Regions from separate parts of the Homo sapiens genome. Here region 2 is linked to region 1. The links come from fine-mapping of genetic effects on gene expression. A gene starts in region 1. The other region holds a variant in brackets. All regions are shown on one strand. Distances are from middle to middle. Region 1 holds the start of ELFN2 (extracellular leucine rich repeat and fibronectin type III domain containing 2). Region 2 has its middle 66 kb from the start of ELFN2.

Region 1 (8,320 bases):
TGCAGCCAAAGCAAAGGGCGTCCGCCACCCCCAGCTTCCCTAGGGCAGGGTCACTGCACCCATTTACAGATAAGCAAAGCAAGGCCCAGAAAGGGCCTTCAGTGAGAGGGGTAGGCCAAGATGTAGAGGCCTCCAGGCCCATCTGGCAAAGGAGTTCAGCAGCCAATGGTGCTGATGTGAGAGTTTCCCTTCGAGGGTTCCAGTCCTGGTTCCATCGCTGTGTGGCCCTGGACTGGTCTGTAACCTCTCTGTTTCTTGTCTTCAAAATGAGGAATAATAATAGTGCCTGCTGCAGCTGGCTTTTGTGGGACTAAACGAATGCCGCCCATAAAGAGCTTCGAACCGGGCCTGGCTCTCAGTAGGGGCTCAATAATATTAGCTGATATCATTATTATTATTATCACTATAGTTATTACTATTTCAATCAGCAGCATCGTGCAGCCAGCACCCTTCCTCTGGCACCCCAGGCATAAGCAAGCCTGCCCAGGTGGCTCTTGAGTCCTCAGGGCTTCTCTGGGGCTTTCCTGGGGACTGTCGGCAGAGCTAGGGGGAAGGAGAGGGGGCTCAATTATTCCAACCCCCAGACACCATCTCCAGTAATAATGTCAATGCCTCTGCCCCAGGTGGTAATTGAGCCAAGAGAAGGTTAATTTAATCAGGGATTGGGCTGGGACGGCAGGAGGCAGAGGACTGGGTAAACCTTCTAGACGATTAACACAGCTCCTGAAGAGGTCTAACTTGCTAAGAAGCGTCAGGTTTCGAGGCAATCCTACTTCTCGGCCATCCACTCCACACAGCACATGTCACAACATGGGGCAGGTGGGGGCACCGAGAGAGGAGCTTGGCCCCCAGGCACTGTGGCCGGAGCAGGTGAGGGTAGCAGCAATGTGTGCCTCCCAGCCCTGCACACGGTTGTCACCCTTTCACACTCACACATCACACCCGCAAGGGAAGCTGCCACCACCCTCTTACAGAGACAGGAGAGGCTGACCTCTGTCACACACAGCCAGGATGCAGATGCGGCAGGGGTGTCACTGGAACCCAATTCTGCTGCCAAAAACAAGCATCCTACAAGACCTCAGGGGATATTGAGGAACAGGCATGGAGCCCCCAGTGACCGCCCTAGACACGCCCCACTGGAGAAGGCTTGCTGAGTGTGCCCGTTCCTATCACGCTGACTGTTTCTGGAGCTTGTGGGTGGAAGAGCAAGAGAGCACTGACCTGGGAGTCAAGAGCAGCCTCTCCTCCAGCCAGAGACTCTTGGCCTTGGGCTCATCACCTGGCACCCCACCACCAATTCCTCATAGCTCCATATCTCTCCAGGAAAGGAAGGTACCCCTCGAGAAGGGGCTGGGTAATCAAATGTGTCTCCCTGTAGCCACTGAGGGCGGCGGGGGGGGGGATGGAATTCACATTAAATCAACAGACAGCTTATTCCAGAACTCAGTTTACTCATCTGTCAAATATCCACATAATAGTGGCTAACTCACCCACCTCAAAGAACTGCCGTGGAAATCCAAGGAAAGAAAAGAAAGTCCTTTGCAAAGTTAGACTTAAACCAAAACAGGAAAGCAGCTACTCTGGGCTAGGGGGATAGGAGGTGAGAGGACAGAGCTCACGTGGACTGAGCCCCCACCATATGCCAGGCATCAGCACCCGCCCCCCACAAGGCCCATGGTCTCCTTAACCCCCTTCACCTCTCTAACCCCTCACCCCATGTTACAGAGGAGAGACTGAGGCTCAGAGAGGCGACGCGAATGCTTAAATCACAAAACACAGAAAGCAGCAAAATGGGATTCGAACCAATGGCCTCACGCTCCCTGGCTATGGCCATTTTCTATTGTCACATGCACTGACACACTCACTCATTAAAGCACATCCACCCAGGGGTGGTGGGCCTGGCTGGGATGAAGAGGAAAACAGGGACTGGGGAGGTCAGATAGGGGGCTGCAGCACATTGGAGGCCTCCAGGCCCACCTGGCAAAGGAGTTCAGCAGCCAATGGTGCTGATGTGAGAACCTCCTTCGGGGGTTCCAGTCCTGGAAGGTGCACTCTTCAGGGGGCAGGACTTAAGGAAAGGGGTCCCATGCCCACTCAGGATGCTGGGAAAGGCGGCCTCTTGGGAGGGACCACGCCACGCGTCCTAAGGCTCCATCCCTCTCCCCTTCCCACCCCTCATATACAAGAGACATAACCACACTCGGCCACACACACTCCCGTGACATCACATTTACACACTCTGGCTGGGGGGAGCAACCTCCGACAAAACTGTCCCAGTGACGTCACCTGCGGCCTGGAGCTTATGTCACACCTGAGGTTCTCACTGACCTCACATACATACTTTTTCCTGATGTCCCCACAATTAACACTCTTTCTTCCTGCCTAGGCGTTGATGGCCCAGAGGTACCCACCTCCCCACCCACACAGTTGCAGGGCCCCCGGCTCATCAGGACAGCACCTGCCTGTGCACCCCTCTCAGGGGACACACATGCCCACATGCTTTGCTGATGGCCCAGACGTGACACGTCCCACAGGTGTCCACGGGCCACGAGAACAGGGGTGTCAGCCATGCACATACACATACACACACACACACACACACACACACACTCCCAGTCCCATCTCATGATGCAACTTGCATATTAAAACGCCTCTCGGTAACCGCGCCGGGCAGTCCGCGCCCCACAGCTTCCACCACATTCCTCCAGGTGCTGCCAGCACCCCACTCCCTCCAGCTTTCTGACTCCGACAGCCTGGCCTGCTGATAGCGACAGCCGCAGCCCAGACACACACACACACTCCAGCCCAACACCTGCGTCTCAGCAAGGGACCAAGGCAGTGCCCTCCAGCCGCAGCTGCTGGGTGGGAGGAGTCCAGGGGGAAGGGGCACAGCACAGAGCCCTGAGCTGCAGAAAGTGCCGAGTACCACGTTCCTCCCCAGCTGAGTGCACGGTCAGCACCACTGTCCCCTTCTCGTCTCCCTCCTTGGGCACGCCTGACACACCATGGCCTGTGGCCTCTGTTTTGGACACAAGCTCCCCGAGTGTGCATGCACACGCGCGCGCGCGCACACACACACACACACATCAGCTCCCTTCCCTCCAAACATTCCGAGGAAATCCTGCCAGGCCACTGACAGTGTGCGTGTGTGCGCTTGTGTGTATACAGACAGAGAGCAGGGTCCACCCCATGTCCACACACACACGCACACACCACACACACACAGCACGCACAATCCTCTCCACATGCACACGGCGCCCCACCAGCCAACACACCCACCCCCTCCCCGTCCCCTGACAGCTGCTGGAGCCCACACACGCACGCACACACACACACTGGCACGCGCTCGCACACACACACAAACACACACACACACACACACCCGGCAGTGGCCCCGGCCCTGCCAGAGCTGCAGTGTCTGCGATTTATGCCGCCTCCCTGGGCTGCCTCCCTCCTTGTCCCTGGCCAGCGCCTCTGAAAGGGTCCCCACCCCCCAATTCTGGTCTTACCAACCCCACCGCCGTCAAGCCCCACCCTGGCCCCCCTTCCCCTAGAAGGCATCCACCCCGTCAACCCCTCTTACCAGCTAGAGGATGAATGCCTTGACCCGGCAGCACCCCGTGAAAGAGAGGGGTTAGGGCCCCCGATTCGAAAAGATGAGGGCAGAGAGGTGCAGTGTGGCACCGGCTGGCACACCGTCCACCATCGAGCCTCTGCACCACCCCCAGAAACGCTCACCTCACCGACCGTCCTCGGTGTCCTCCCACCGCCTCCGCCCACCGCCACCACCACCACCTCCCTCGCGCAGGGTGGTCCCCCGGGGGTCTCACGGGGATCCCCAGACCCAGGAGACACTGGGGGTGGCTCTCCCCGTCTCATCCCCCCTTCCGTGTCCCTCTCCAAGCCCCACCCCCACTGACGGAGGGGGTGCCCTCCGGCTCCAGCCCCGACTCCCACCGTCTCCCCGGTCGGTCGGTCGCGGCGCTCGGATCCAGAGGAATTCACTTACCCCAGCCCCAGCCGGGATCCGGGCCAAGCACCGCCTCCGGGAAGCGGCGGCCGCGGGGCCTGCGCGTGTGAGTGTGAGTGTGAATGTGAGTGTGAGCGCGGGTGTGGGTGCGGGGTGCGTGGCCGTGGGGTGGCCCGCGTGTGTCTGTGTGTGTGTCTGGGAGCGCGCGTGTGCGCGCAGACGCCGCCGCCCCCTCCTCCCCGCCGCCGCGCCTCTGCCCCTGCCTCGGCGGGGAGGGCGCCCGGGAGGGGCCAAGCGGCGCGCGTCAGGGACCGCGGCAGGCTGTGTCCGTCTGTCCGTCCCCGTCTGTCCGTCCGCCAGCCCGCCCGCTCCCGGTGCCCTCCGCAGGCCTTTCCGCAGCAAGCCCGCTCCCGCCCCCGAGCCGGCCGCACGCTCCACGGACACACGCGCGCTCGCAGACACACGCCCGCGGGGCTGGGGCCGCGCCTGGCGCCGCCGCTGCAGCTGCAGCGCCCGGGGAGGCGAAGGCGGCCCCACGGACCCGAGCCCCGGCCTGGCGGACCCCTGTCCCGGCCGCGGCCCCCTGCGCTGCTCACCCCGCGGGATCCGGGTCCGGGTCCGGGTCCGGCCTCCGCCAGCGCATTCAACAGCTGGGGGCAAACTTGCGGCGGGGCCGCCCGAAGTGCGCCTGGACTCGCCCTCCCCCTGGACTCCGCCTCCGCTGATGGGCCCCCTCTCCGCCTTGTACCTCCATGCCCTGCCGCCTGCGCCCTGCTGGTTGGTCCCGCGTTCAACCGCTGGCGACTGGGGAAGTGCGGCTGCTGCGTTCCCATTTTACAGGCCAGACAACTGAGGTTCGGAGAGGAGTGATTCCCCCAAGGTTACACAGGGAGCCTACAGACAGTATTAGACTTTACGCTCCCCTACCTTGTGCCAGGGCACTCACTGCCTTTCCCCACCCCTCCAGGAGTAGGTCCAAGGGATACTGGGCTCATCTGTAGCTAGAGAACCTTCATTAGCCTTCCAGAGGCCCAGTTCCCCGCCCCTTACGCCAAAGCCCCTGCCACCTGCTGCCACCTGCAAAGGGGTGGATGCTGGGAGGAGGAGGAGGAGGTGGAAGATGCAAGAAGCCTGGCACCCGGGGCCTATAACTTGGTGCTTGGGCATGCAAGCACCTCCTCCCGAGGCCCTGCGAGCTGCATGTCGGAGGCCTGCTGCCAGCAGGCCCTGTACTTCTCCATCACTTTTATAGGACCGCATGCACCAGCGCCTGTTCTCAGGTGTTGCACAGCAGATGAAGTCCAGGCTGCGGGAACTCCCCGTCGGGACATCTCATGCAGGTCTGGAATAAGGAGACTCCCCAGAAGAAGCCACTGCCTGAGCTGAATCTTGATGGATGAGTAGGAGTTGGCCAGCTAAAGAAGGAGGAGAAGGGTGTCCTGGACTCTGGGAACAGCATGTGCAAAGAGGCACAGAGGCATGAAACAGCTTTGTATGTGTGTACAGGGAACTCCACGGAGTTGGGTATTAGTAGAGCAGAAAGAACGTCTGTCCAGAAATTCCTCCCTCCTTTCAACTAAGAACAGGGAACGGCCCAGGATGGGGCTGGGAGGGCAGACAAGCACTGGGTCACAGGCCACTTGTTGTCCTGGGGTATGCAGAAGGACTATTGGGCGTTCCCCACCTGCACCCCAGGCTGCCTGGCACACTCCTACCCATCCTTCAAGGTCCCTCGCTGCAAACCCAAACAAGCCATGTGCTGTCTCTGCCCTCTAAACTGAGCCCTCCTACAGGGCAGGGGCGGTATCCAACACATGGTGTGTATCCCTGACAAGGCTGGGCAAGAAGCAGGGTCCCAGCTCCAAGACCTTGCTGGAAGAGCCCCTCAGGCGGAACATAACGGCCTCTGCGCCCTCTGGCGGATCCCTCGAGAAATTAGAGTGCTCCCCAAGCCAACAGCCCCCCTGTGGCTCTCAGGCCCAGACACTTTCTGAGATGGGCACTGGCAGATGCCACCTAATCCGCTCCTGCCCAAGAAACTGAGCAGTGATGACCCCAAAGAATACCAGGGAGTCAGTGGCAAAACAGCCTCTTGCTGCTCTGTTTCCGAGACATTCCCAGTCATCTTCCAGAGTGCAAGTCACAACCCTCTCTGAGCCTGTTTCCTCCTTTGTGAAAGAAATATAGCAAAAGCAGCCAGTACCCCCAGCACAGTGCCGGCCACTCCCTTCTCCCTGGAGACCTCCAGGTCTGGCTGGATTTGGTCAGAATTTGTTTGAAGCTCTAAAACGGTCTAAGAATCTCCCTTTGGAGACTTTGCCCTTACTGGGCAGATGTACATTGACAAGAGTTTCAGCTCTTAGCTGACTTTCTGCCACCATATAGAAGATAGAGTTGGCCTGGCCTGAGGGTCATAGTGGACCACACCATCTAGACACTCGACTGGGCTTTCTCTAGACCATAGTGGAAAGGATACATGTCTGCACTGTCAAAGACAGTAGCCACTAACTGCATGTGGCTATTGAGTGATTGGAATTGTGGCTAATGTGGCTGAGGAACTAAATTTTTAATTTTAATTGTTATTACTTTAAATTTAAATAGCCATAATGTGGCTTGTGGCTGCCATGTGAGATAGTGCAGCTCCAGACATATAGCAAGCTCCTTATTAAAATCAAGCCCAGGCAGACCTAATGCACACACACAAACACACAGACACACACACAGGGAACCCTGAGGACCTGGGAATGCGGGGAGCGGGGAGCTCAGGAGACTGCCTAGAATCCGTAGCTGAATGGTTAAGACCGAGACAAACGTAAGCAATAACATGTCCATTCCCACAGTCACTGCCCCAGACCAGGCTTGCCGTCACCTGGATACCTGCAACAAACTCCCTCACCACCCATCTGTTTAAACCCTCCAGTAGCTCCCCAGAGCCCATGCACAGAGGCAAATATGTTCTCTTTCTCATGACAAGTGATTGGCAGCAGCTGCCTAGAGGTGCTCACCCTTTGCAGAAAATGGCATGATCAATTGGTGATGTCTGCCTCAGGAATAAATACAGAGATGAATGGTAAGCCCTCTCTGCTACAGGATAAAATCCAAACACTATTTATTTATTTATTTTAGAGACAGTGCCTCTCTCTGTCACCCAGGCTGGAGTGCAGTGGTGCAATCTCCACTCACAGTGGTGCAACCTCCGCTCACTGCAACCTCCGCCTCCCAGGTTCAAACTATTGTCCTGCCTCAGCCTCCCAAGTAGCTGGGATTACAGGCACCCACCACCATGCCTGACTAATTTTTGTATTTTTAGTAGAGACGGGGTTTCCCCATTTTGGCCAGACTGGCCTCAAACTCCTGAGCTCAGGTGATCTTCCTGCTTCAGCCTCCCAAAGTGCTGGGATTACAGGCATGAGCCACCGCACCTGACCAAAACTCCAAACTCTTTAACTTGCCTAAATAAGGCCCGTTGCAGTTGGTCCTTATTTATTCCTCCAGCATCTTCAATATCATCCCACATATGTTCTGGGTCCCAGCAACACCAATATCTGCCCTTTCCAGACTCACTTTCTGCCACCATATAGAAGATGGAGTTGGATCTGTCACCCCATCATCTTCACACCTTTGTGCTTTTGATCCTGTTCCCTTGATGTGGGAGGACTTTCCTCCTCTCAGATCCCTTCCCTACCTGTCTACTTTCTACCTATCCTCAGGTACTGCTTGAAAGCCGCCTCCTCAGTGAAGCCTCCCCTGACCACTCCTAAACTGAGCTGGCTGAGCTACTTCCTTCTCCACCGGCTCCCAGAACACTCTGCAAGGCTTCAGTGACAGCACACATCACATCATGTCATTATTCATTCTCTATGTGTCCACCTCCCCCAGCTTATTCTTCACTTGGTCACCTCTATCAAGTAGCAACCATGTGTCAGGGGCTCGCTCAGGGCCAGGCACTGTGCAAGGCCATTTTCACACATTATTCTTATTAATAAGCCACCAATCTAGACGTTAGGAGGTTCTCTTCCGGGCACACAGCATCCACCCCCCCTTCCCACCAGCGCCCTAATTTCTCCTCTCCCCACCACCATGGACAGTCTTGGAGGAATGTGAATCCAGGTACCACTTCCTGCCCTCAGCTGGGCTAATTGCGCTGTGGGTGGAGTGACGCGTGCACAGGAAAATTAACCGGAGCAGAACCATCCTCGAAATGTCAGTGCCAGGTGACATGGGTGGGCTGGGCACCTGCCCTGCATCCCAGAACCCCATCTGCTCGGCCTTCTCCCAGAGGTGCACAGGAGCTGCCCCTGGCTGACAGCTCACCAGAAAGTGCCCTTTATTTTCAAGGTGAACAAGCAT
Region 2 (8,320 bases), 66 kb before region 1:
CCTGGAATCTGCTACTTCTCATTGACCAGAACTTGAGTACGGGGCCTCACGCTAGACGGGAGGTTGGGGAATGTCTTAATAATAGACCACATGCCTGGCTGAAAATGAAGGGTTTTGCTCCTGTGGAAGAAGGGAAGGTGGATACTGGAGAACAGCTTGTGATCTCTGCCACAACAGAGGAGTATCTTTGCATAGGTTTCTTCGCCATTTTTATGGCTTCATCTAAGAATTCTCTTTTCCTACTCTCCTTTTCCTCTCACACTGATCATCCTTTTCTTACTGATTTTTAGCCACACTTCTTATGGGGAACTCACTACACTTCCCAAAACCATCTGTAGCAGTGCTTGGCTCTAAGAATTTGTGTCAAAATCAAATGGGAGCCACAGGGATGGGCCCAGCTCAACACGTGGCTCACGTTAAATGCCTCACAAATGTTGGCTTCCTTCCCTTGAGTCAGGCATTGCAAAAATGTTGCGGTGCCCTAGAACCCCCTAGAGTGCTAACAACTTGGAGCCCAGGCTTATTGAAAGACAGGGCCTGGGCCCTTCTGTTTTTACCAACTTCCCTGGGTGAGAATGATACCCACTGAAGTCTGAATTTGCCCTCAATTGTTGACAAACTCTGTACTGTCATCGACTTCCTCTTGGTCAGCAGCACGAGCGTGGCCACCCCCTCCACACATCACCCTGCACGCATCTGAAGCCGAAGTGAAGTCCCACAGCCAACCTTCTCTTTGCCAGGAGAAAAAGCCCCATTTTCTCACTCATCCCTTGCGTGGCAGGGATTCCCAACCCTTCTAATTGCTATCATTCTCAGCAGGTGGACCTGGCGGGTCAACCTCCCTCCTGGCATATTCACCCTGGACTGACCATAGCCTCTCCAGGTGGAGTCTGGCCAGTACGGGAGAGCACAGAACCCTCACCTCCCCCAGGCCAGACCCCGTGATCCTATTCACATGGCCCACGGCTGCATCGGCCCTAGAAACAGCTTTGTCACTCCGTGAACCTACAGTAAGTTCAAATCCCCCCCAGTCTCCAGGAAGTAGGAGTTCCGTGTTGATGGTTACATCTGCACATGCTACAAGTGGCACAAAACCTTTACTCAAGTGAGTTCAAGCAAGAGACATCAGTTCACATGAGAAGGCAGAGGCACGCAGGTCCAGGTCCGCCGGGGCGAGCCTCGGTCCACCGTTTCTTCGAATACAGGATTTGTTCTCTTTCCACTTGGACATCTCAATGTTTCACAGAGAGGGCCCTAGTGTTTCCTAAACTGCAGAGTTTCAGGCATCTGCATCCCGATTAGATACAACCGATTCTAAAGGAGGATCATTCTTCTCGTCCCATTTCCTCTTCCTGGTTGGAACTGGGTCCCGTGGCCATTCCTAAGCCAATCACTGGCAGGGGGAGTGGGACTACCATTTCTGGCAGGTGCCAAGGTCCAGAGGCATGAGTCGGTGATGGGCCTTCTCAGCATGGCTGGAAGAGCCTGTGAGATTATCTAACAGATGAGGGGCACAGCCAGATGTGGGCCCACTGGCTGCTATCATCCCCCAAGTGAAGGGTGGTGTGGCTTGCACCCCAAGGGGAATGGGTACATGGAGAGGAGCAGCCAGATTGAGATGAGTTGTCAAGATCAAGTCAGTATGAGATGAGGGGAAGGTGGAGACTAGCTCCAAAAAAACGGCCCATCATGTTGGCTTGAGTGGCAGGGGACTGCCACTTACATAGGAAGCAGGAGGACTGGGGGCCGCTGGGCTATCTGAGATGGACGTGGGGCTGGAAGTCACCAACATATATCCATATGTTGGTATTGGAAGCCCTGGGGCTTGGGGGAGTGCACTAAGTAGGGAATCAGTGAGTCGACACTTTAGCACCTCCGTGACTGTCTCCAGCTGTGGCAGGAATCCAAGAGAGAGATGGAGACCTGGATTAAGGCCACCCGGCAGGGAATTGAAAATATAATTTGTAAAACGCAATCATCTGGTCCAAATGAGGAAGGGAAGGAGAGTAACCAAGTTTGGATCTCAGAAAGACTCAGATGGTGTGAGGTCGCTGTCACTGACCCTCAGCACAAGGGGCTCGGCTTTGCCCTCACTGGCCTGGTCCTTCTTGGGAGCCTTCCCCTGGCCTCCCTGGCCAGGCCCCTGCCACTCCCCTCTTCCTTTACCCCACTCGGAGGTTCTCCTGGCTCTCTCCTTCCTGGCTCTCGGCCCTCTATGGGGTCTATTTCTTTTGACCAAAGCATCTGCTTCCATTGCTGTATCTGCAACACTGTCGCAGCCTCCTTCATTCAGCCAACATTCTCGAGCGGCCCCTACCTGGGCCAGGCCACGGTATGAACGCTCCTCAGCTCTCAAGGCTTCCGTGCCTCGATACAGCTACGTGAAGCAGGAGTAGCTCAATCCATTTCACAGAGGTGGAAATTGAGGCTCTGGAGTTCGGAGGAGCACTCCAAGGCCCAGTACTGCCTGACCACCATGGGGCAGGGCAGACGAGCCCCAGACTTGGAGCCTACCCTAAGAAGTTTCTCGGCTTTGCTCAGGAAAGAATTCAAGTGTGAGCTGGTGGTGGAAGAAACAGCTTTACAGAGGTGATAGTGTTACAGCTCTGTGATTGCCCCTGCAGAGCAGGGCTACCCCACGGGCAGTGTGCTGACAGCAGCAGCTCAGGAGGAGTTCTGCAGTCATGTTTATACCCACTTTTCATCACATGCAAATTAAGGGGCAGGTTATTTAGAAATTTCTAGAAAAGGAGCTGTAACTTCCAGGTCATTGCCATGGAAAGGGGCAGTAACTTCCGGGTATTGCTATAGACAAAGGTAAAACTCATGGTGCTGGTGGTGGGCATGACTTCTGGAGAGAGGTGCTTTCAGGGCCTCTTCCTGTTTTAGCCACTCTTCAATCTGGTCTAGAGTTGAGTCTCCGTCTCCCACCTCAACCACACTCCCTGGTGGTCAGTCCAGCCCTAAGTTCATAGTCTGGCCTGGGGTGTCTCATCATGCATTTATGGGTGTAGAGGCAGCCAGGCCTGGGATGGGGACATGAGCTCCTGGAGTCAGGGAGAGTGGGCAGCCAGCCCTTGCCTGCGTTAATCAGCATTTGTTGGGCCTCAGTTCCCTGGTCCATACACGGAGGGTAAAAGTAAGTACCTTTTCCTCATTGGAGTACAACAGAACTCAAACGGCCTCATGCCTACCTCATGGCTCTCTTGTGAGGTGGCACTGGAAGCTCTGTGTGTGAGCACAGTGCGGACACACAGTGGGTGACTCGTCCCTCAGTGAAGTCCTCCAGTTAAGAGCCGTGGACCACGTACCTCTGTACACCCCACGCCACCCCTGCTTAGCAACCTCCATCCGGCTGGCACAGGGACAGCTCAGGGTGAGACTGAGGGGAGTCGATGATCAGCTGTCAACAGGGAGTCAGTGGGGAGACTTCCACTCTCAGGTCCTAAAGTCAGAAAGCTCCTTAGACCGAAAGCAGCTGGGAAAGCAGGGGCCAAAGACAGGAAATGGGAGCTGCAGAAACTGAAATATCAGACACAAAACAGGAGGCAAGAGCAGCTCTGGCCATGAGGCAACAAAGCAGAACAAAGAAGAGGCTCGTACAAGGCAGAACAAAAATGGAGATGAAGAACCAAGATGGCCCAGAAGCCTCACTGCAGTGGGCAGAGTGAAGCGCGGCGCTCCCCTCTAGTGCTATGTGATGGGTGGACTGTGCCCTCTGGAATGGGGTTTACAGCAGGGACTGAGCCACTCGAGGCTCCACTGTCTCCTAGGGTTACTTCCCGCCTTTAACCCTCACCTGAACCATGTCAAAGGACCGTTATAAACAGCTAAGGGACAGCCACATCCCGGCAGCTCCCCAGAGACAGAGGTGCTGTCTCCTTTAGGCTTTCCCACCACAGGTGCCAGCCAGGGCTGGTGCCTCACATGGCATGTAGAAGAAGACTTGTGAGTTGACCCTCAGAGCAAGAAACTAGGAAAAGCAATGGGGCCATGAGATGCTGCTGAGCAGCAGTAAAGAGAAAAATATGCTTTTTACTTAGCTGGAAAGGGCAAAAGGAAGACACTCCAAATGTAAAGTGACTTTCTGAGCCCCCCTCCTCCCTACCCCCTTATCCTGCCCTCCATGAGTTGCCAGTTCCATCCCACCTTCCTCCCACCCCCAGGAGAAGTTCCTGCCAGCCCCACTCAACTCCTGGGCCCAAGTGACGCCATCTCCCCTTCCACCTCCCCAGTCCCCGCAGGGTCGTTCCCTCCTCTGTGAGCAGCCTTCCAAGCCCACCCTGCTCCTGCCCAGACACAAAACAGCAAAACCACTTCCTCTCCCTTTTCCTCCATGTATAGCCTTTTCCTCCAAACAGTGGGCCCATCCCACACCATCTGACTTCTACCCCCAGGCCCCATTAACTCAGAGCCCAGGCCTATCCCTAGTATTTCCTAGGCCTGGGCGTGAGTACAAAGGGAAGCCCAAATCCTGTGTGTCTAAATACTGAAAAGTTCTCCATTCAGCTAACAAACTGTTAGAATATCCTCCTGCCTTGACAAATGTACCTTCACGATGACCTCTAACAGGTTTGAATTTCAAATTCCTGGCCTCCCTAAATGTGGTGGCCTATGGAAAGTCAAGCCCCATTCTCCGGCCCATAGGACACCCTCTTCTCGCCCACAGCACTATCTCACAACTTAAAGGGTCTCACAGGCATGCATAGAGACTGCCACCCCACGCATTCAAGCCCTGCCTACACCTCCCACACGCAGCTACTCCTTGGTCATCTCTCATGCCTAGGAGTGCCCACATGGGTGGCACGGTCCACCCTGGGAAGGACAGGCCTTGGAAACATGTCCGGGGCCAACTGGACAGTCAATCCTGGCATCCCAGGTGCTTGGAGCATGGTCAAGTGGAAAGTGTCTGGGAATGCCCGTGGGCCCTGCAGACTCATCAGCCCGTGGGGAAGAGCAGGGGGCTAGGAGAGGGTCAGAGCAGACCCTTCTCACATA[T/C]ATGCCCTGTGGCAGGGACCCCCTTAATCCTGGTGCCACCTGCCTCCTCCTCCCCCCGTCTCTGGGTTATAATCTAAATAACTGCCAGACGTAACCTCTTCTTCCCTGATCATGCTTCCTATGACCACAGGAAGGCTCTCCCCGTTTCCAACCCTTATTTTGGGGGGCTCATTCTTCCCATCTTTAAAGGAAAGATTTGGAGCAGACATCTCAGCAGGAACCAGAATTTTAGCAACAAGACACGAGATGCAGGGGTTGACAGGGCCGGCACAGGCCCCAGGATTATTGTACAGGTGGCATCTCTCGACACTCCACTGGCCTAAGGTTGGGACGTTGGGCCATGCCCGATCTGGGACTCGGGTCTTTGGGCCCTGACCTCCAGGGGAACAGGCAAAGTTTGGGAGTAAAGTGGGTTAGAGCTCCTTCCAGCTCTTCTGGGTATGCTGTGCTTGCTTGGGCCAATTACTGTCTCTGAGTCTTTCCCCCAAAGTGTAGAGCAGGGGTAAAGCCCCTACTTCATGGAGCTGCCGAGGAAATAAACACACCCTGGTCCACACACCAGATGTGAGGCATCAGCCCAACCCTGCCAAACCCTCTTAAAGCTGCAGGACAGATGTTTGGGCTCTACAGATCAGATGCTCTTCTGAGAGCCTTGGAAGGAAGCAGTGAGGCAGAGAGATGCTTCTACCGCCATCGTCCCTGCCCTAGAATGAGAGTCCACAGCCCATTGCCAGCACCCAAGGGGTACCCCTGCAGCTGCTGTGATCCTGGCAACAGCAGCCCAGGGCCCCCCGAGGTACCGATTCATTCCCTCAGCAGCCCCATGAAGCAGAAACAGGTGGCAGCTCCCTTGGTGGGTCAGTCCTGCGTAGTTATTTTAAAAGTCAGTTTGAAAAGGCTACCCCTGAGTCTGGTCTGCAGCCCTCCTGACAATTCCATCCACCACTTGGTTTCCTCTTGTGAATTTTTTTTTCCTGCTTAAATTAGTTACAGAGAATTCTGTTCTCTGCAATAGAAACCGGACTGAAGTCTATAAATTCACAGCCATGGTGCTTAACATATGGGGATTGAGCCATACAATTTGTTTGAAAAGTAAGTGAGAAGAGAGAGGGGCAGATGAGTGAGTTTTCTCCCCCTAGACCATTGCAGATTCTGGGAGTTATCTAAATCAGGGGAGGCGAGAGTTGCTGGAGGAGTTTCACCCCCCTGGGAACTCCTTCACACGTGACCTTGCTTAGTTTGGCAAGGACGGGGAGGACGGAAGATGCGCGGTCTGAGATGCAGGTGAGGGCAGTTTTAGAGGAGGCCAACAGAGAGAGGGGGATTTGGGGTGGGGACTGGGTAAGAATGGGTGTCGTGGGCTTGGCGCTGACAGCAGGCTGGGGCCCTAGGCCTAGGGAAGGAGAAGGGGCTGCCAGCATATGCCGGAGAGGCAGCCCGGGCCTCAACTGGAGGTTGGGCCCTAGGAGTCTAGCCGTGAAACCCTCCAGGCAGGAGTGGTGGGGAAAGCAGAAAAGCCCTAGCTTCCTGACATGTCCCCACATGCCTGAGGGAGGGGGCAATGGCTGAGCTCCCAGAACGGCAGGGCCGAGAGCAGCCTGGACAACAAGGAGCAGAGGGTGACCCACAGGTGCAGGGTTGGGAAGACAGTGACAGCGGGAGGCCAGAACCGTCACCTCCAATGCACACCTAGCATCAGGTCTCCTTCCTTGCAGACAAAGGGCCTTGGGAAGGAGGCTCATGGGGCCAACCAGTTCCCCATGTGGGAGTCCTCAGATGCAGAGACCAGGAAGCTGCAGATGGGACCTGCAATCCAGGGGAATTGGGGTAAAGTGAGACCAAGAGCAGAACTCAGAATTGGATTCCCCAGCCCCACAGTCTGGGAAGAATATGAAGAAAACACCTGAGCCAGCAGGGATCACCTAAGCCTCCCTTGGCCAAGGACTAGACAGTAAAGGCTTTCCTGGAAAAAGGGGCTTGCAGACCCTAACCTCACAACACCAATAGGATGGAAGCCTCGGGGAGGCCAGGGTGGTGGCGGCAGCAAGGGAGGATTGCCTGGGATTCAGGGCCAGGCACAGGGCCACGGGGCAGCCTCAGGGATGAGGGGCTCCGGAAGAAGCACAAGGGCTGCCAGGAAAGAGCCGGGGGTGCAGAGCAAGAGAGAGACTGGCCTGGCCACAGCCCCACTGGGACAGCTGCACTGGGCCTGTGTGAGGGCACTCAGAGGGGACAGGGGCCAGCTGGGGCCCAGGCAGGAAAACAGTGAGGGGCCAAGCCCTGGGTCATCCCAGAGGGTCCCCACAGTTCAGCCAACTCCCATGGAGGCAGGAAGGGAGCAGGAAACCCCATGGGCCACCAGAGCCAGCAGGACACAGCTCCTGTAGACACAGGCCAGGGATGAGTGCCACGCTGTGACACCAGTCACAGGGAATAGCTTAGGACAAGGGAGTTCATTTAAAGCAAGCCATAACAATCCAGGCCAAATCCAGGGGCCTTCCTGGAAGAGGGGTTGGTAGCAGTTGGAGAACAGGAGTCTGAGAAAAGGGCAGGTGGGCTCTGCCTCTGGGAAGCAAGGAGGCTGGGGCTGGGCGGTGGGCCCCAGGCTGCCCCCGAACAAAGGCTTGGGCAGTTCAGCCTGAGGTCACTGGATGCTGACCTGAGTGCCTCAGCCTGACCAGAGAGACAAGGTACCTCCTAAATCTGAGAAGGAGCAGGAATGCTTCCGGGCTGTGACAAAAATGAACAGCAGATGGTGGGAGGGCACCAGAGGAGCAGGTGGGGCAGGGGTCCAGGACAGGCTGCCCAGGCTGAGCCCAGAGGAGAGAACCAGTGGGTCCCACAGTGACCCTGGACCCACCAATGACAGGAGCAGGAGGAGGCCAGCCTCTGAGACACTGGGCCTGGGGCTGAGTGCCTGGAACCCTGCCTTCAGAGACTAAATAAAGGAGACCCTGAGAACCAGTGAGATCCAGTGATCCCCCAAACCCTGCAGCCACAAGGGCTCATTTTAGGCTCACCTCTGGAAAACATTTATAGTTGTTGAGGCAGGGGGAGCTTGAGGGAGGGGAATATTCAGCTAAACAACTAAACAGAAAAGGAAGTTCCTGGCCCAGTAGCTACAAGGGTCACCAGAGTCACCTTGGAACTGTCAACTCCTTCAAACCAAGCCCCAGCAGAGACCAGGGAACTGTGCTGAGGACACCTAGCTTCCCTGGAGCCCTGCTGCGGGGAAGAACATCAAAGAAGCTAGAGAAGGAAGCCTGCCCGGGCTGGAGAGGGCCGGTGGTCGGTGAAGTTTGAGTTACAGATATCTTGGAAA

Evidence for each region.
Region 2: its variant is fine-mapped to the expression of ELFN2 in testis (GTEx, PIP above 0.99). The same link has a PIP of 0.9 or more in anterior cingulate cortex, caudate, cerebral cortex, hippocampus, hypothalamus and nucleus accumbens.

What each region holds. Positions count from the first base shown.
Region 1 is chr22:37,423,289-37,431,608 of GRCh38, forward strand. It overlaps ELFN2 (extracellular leucine rich repeat and fibronectin type III domain containing 2), which reads right to left and starts at 4,191. Exons shown (of 3, transcript NM_052906.5): 1 at 4,010-4,191.
Region 2 is chr22:37,357,234-37,365,553 of GRCh38, forward strand. It overlaps a transcript of ELFN2 not described here. Among named protein-coding and RNA genes, the nearest start is that of ELFN2, 66 kb to the right of the region's middle. The variant T/C (reference allele first, on the strand shown) is at 4,999.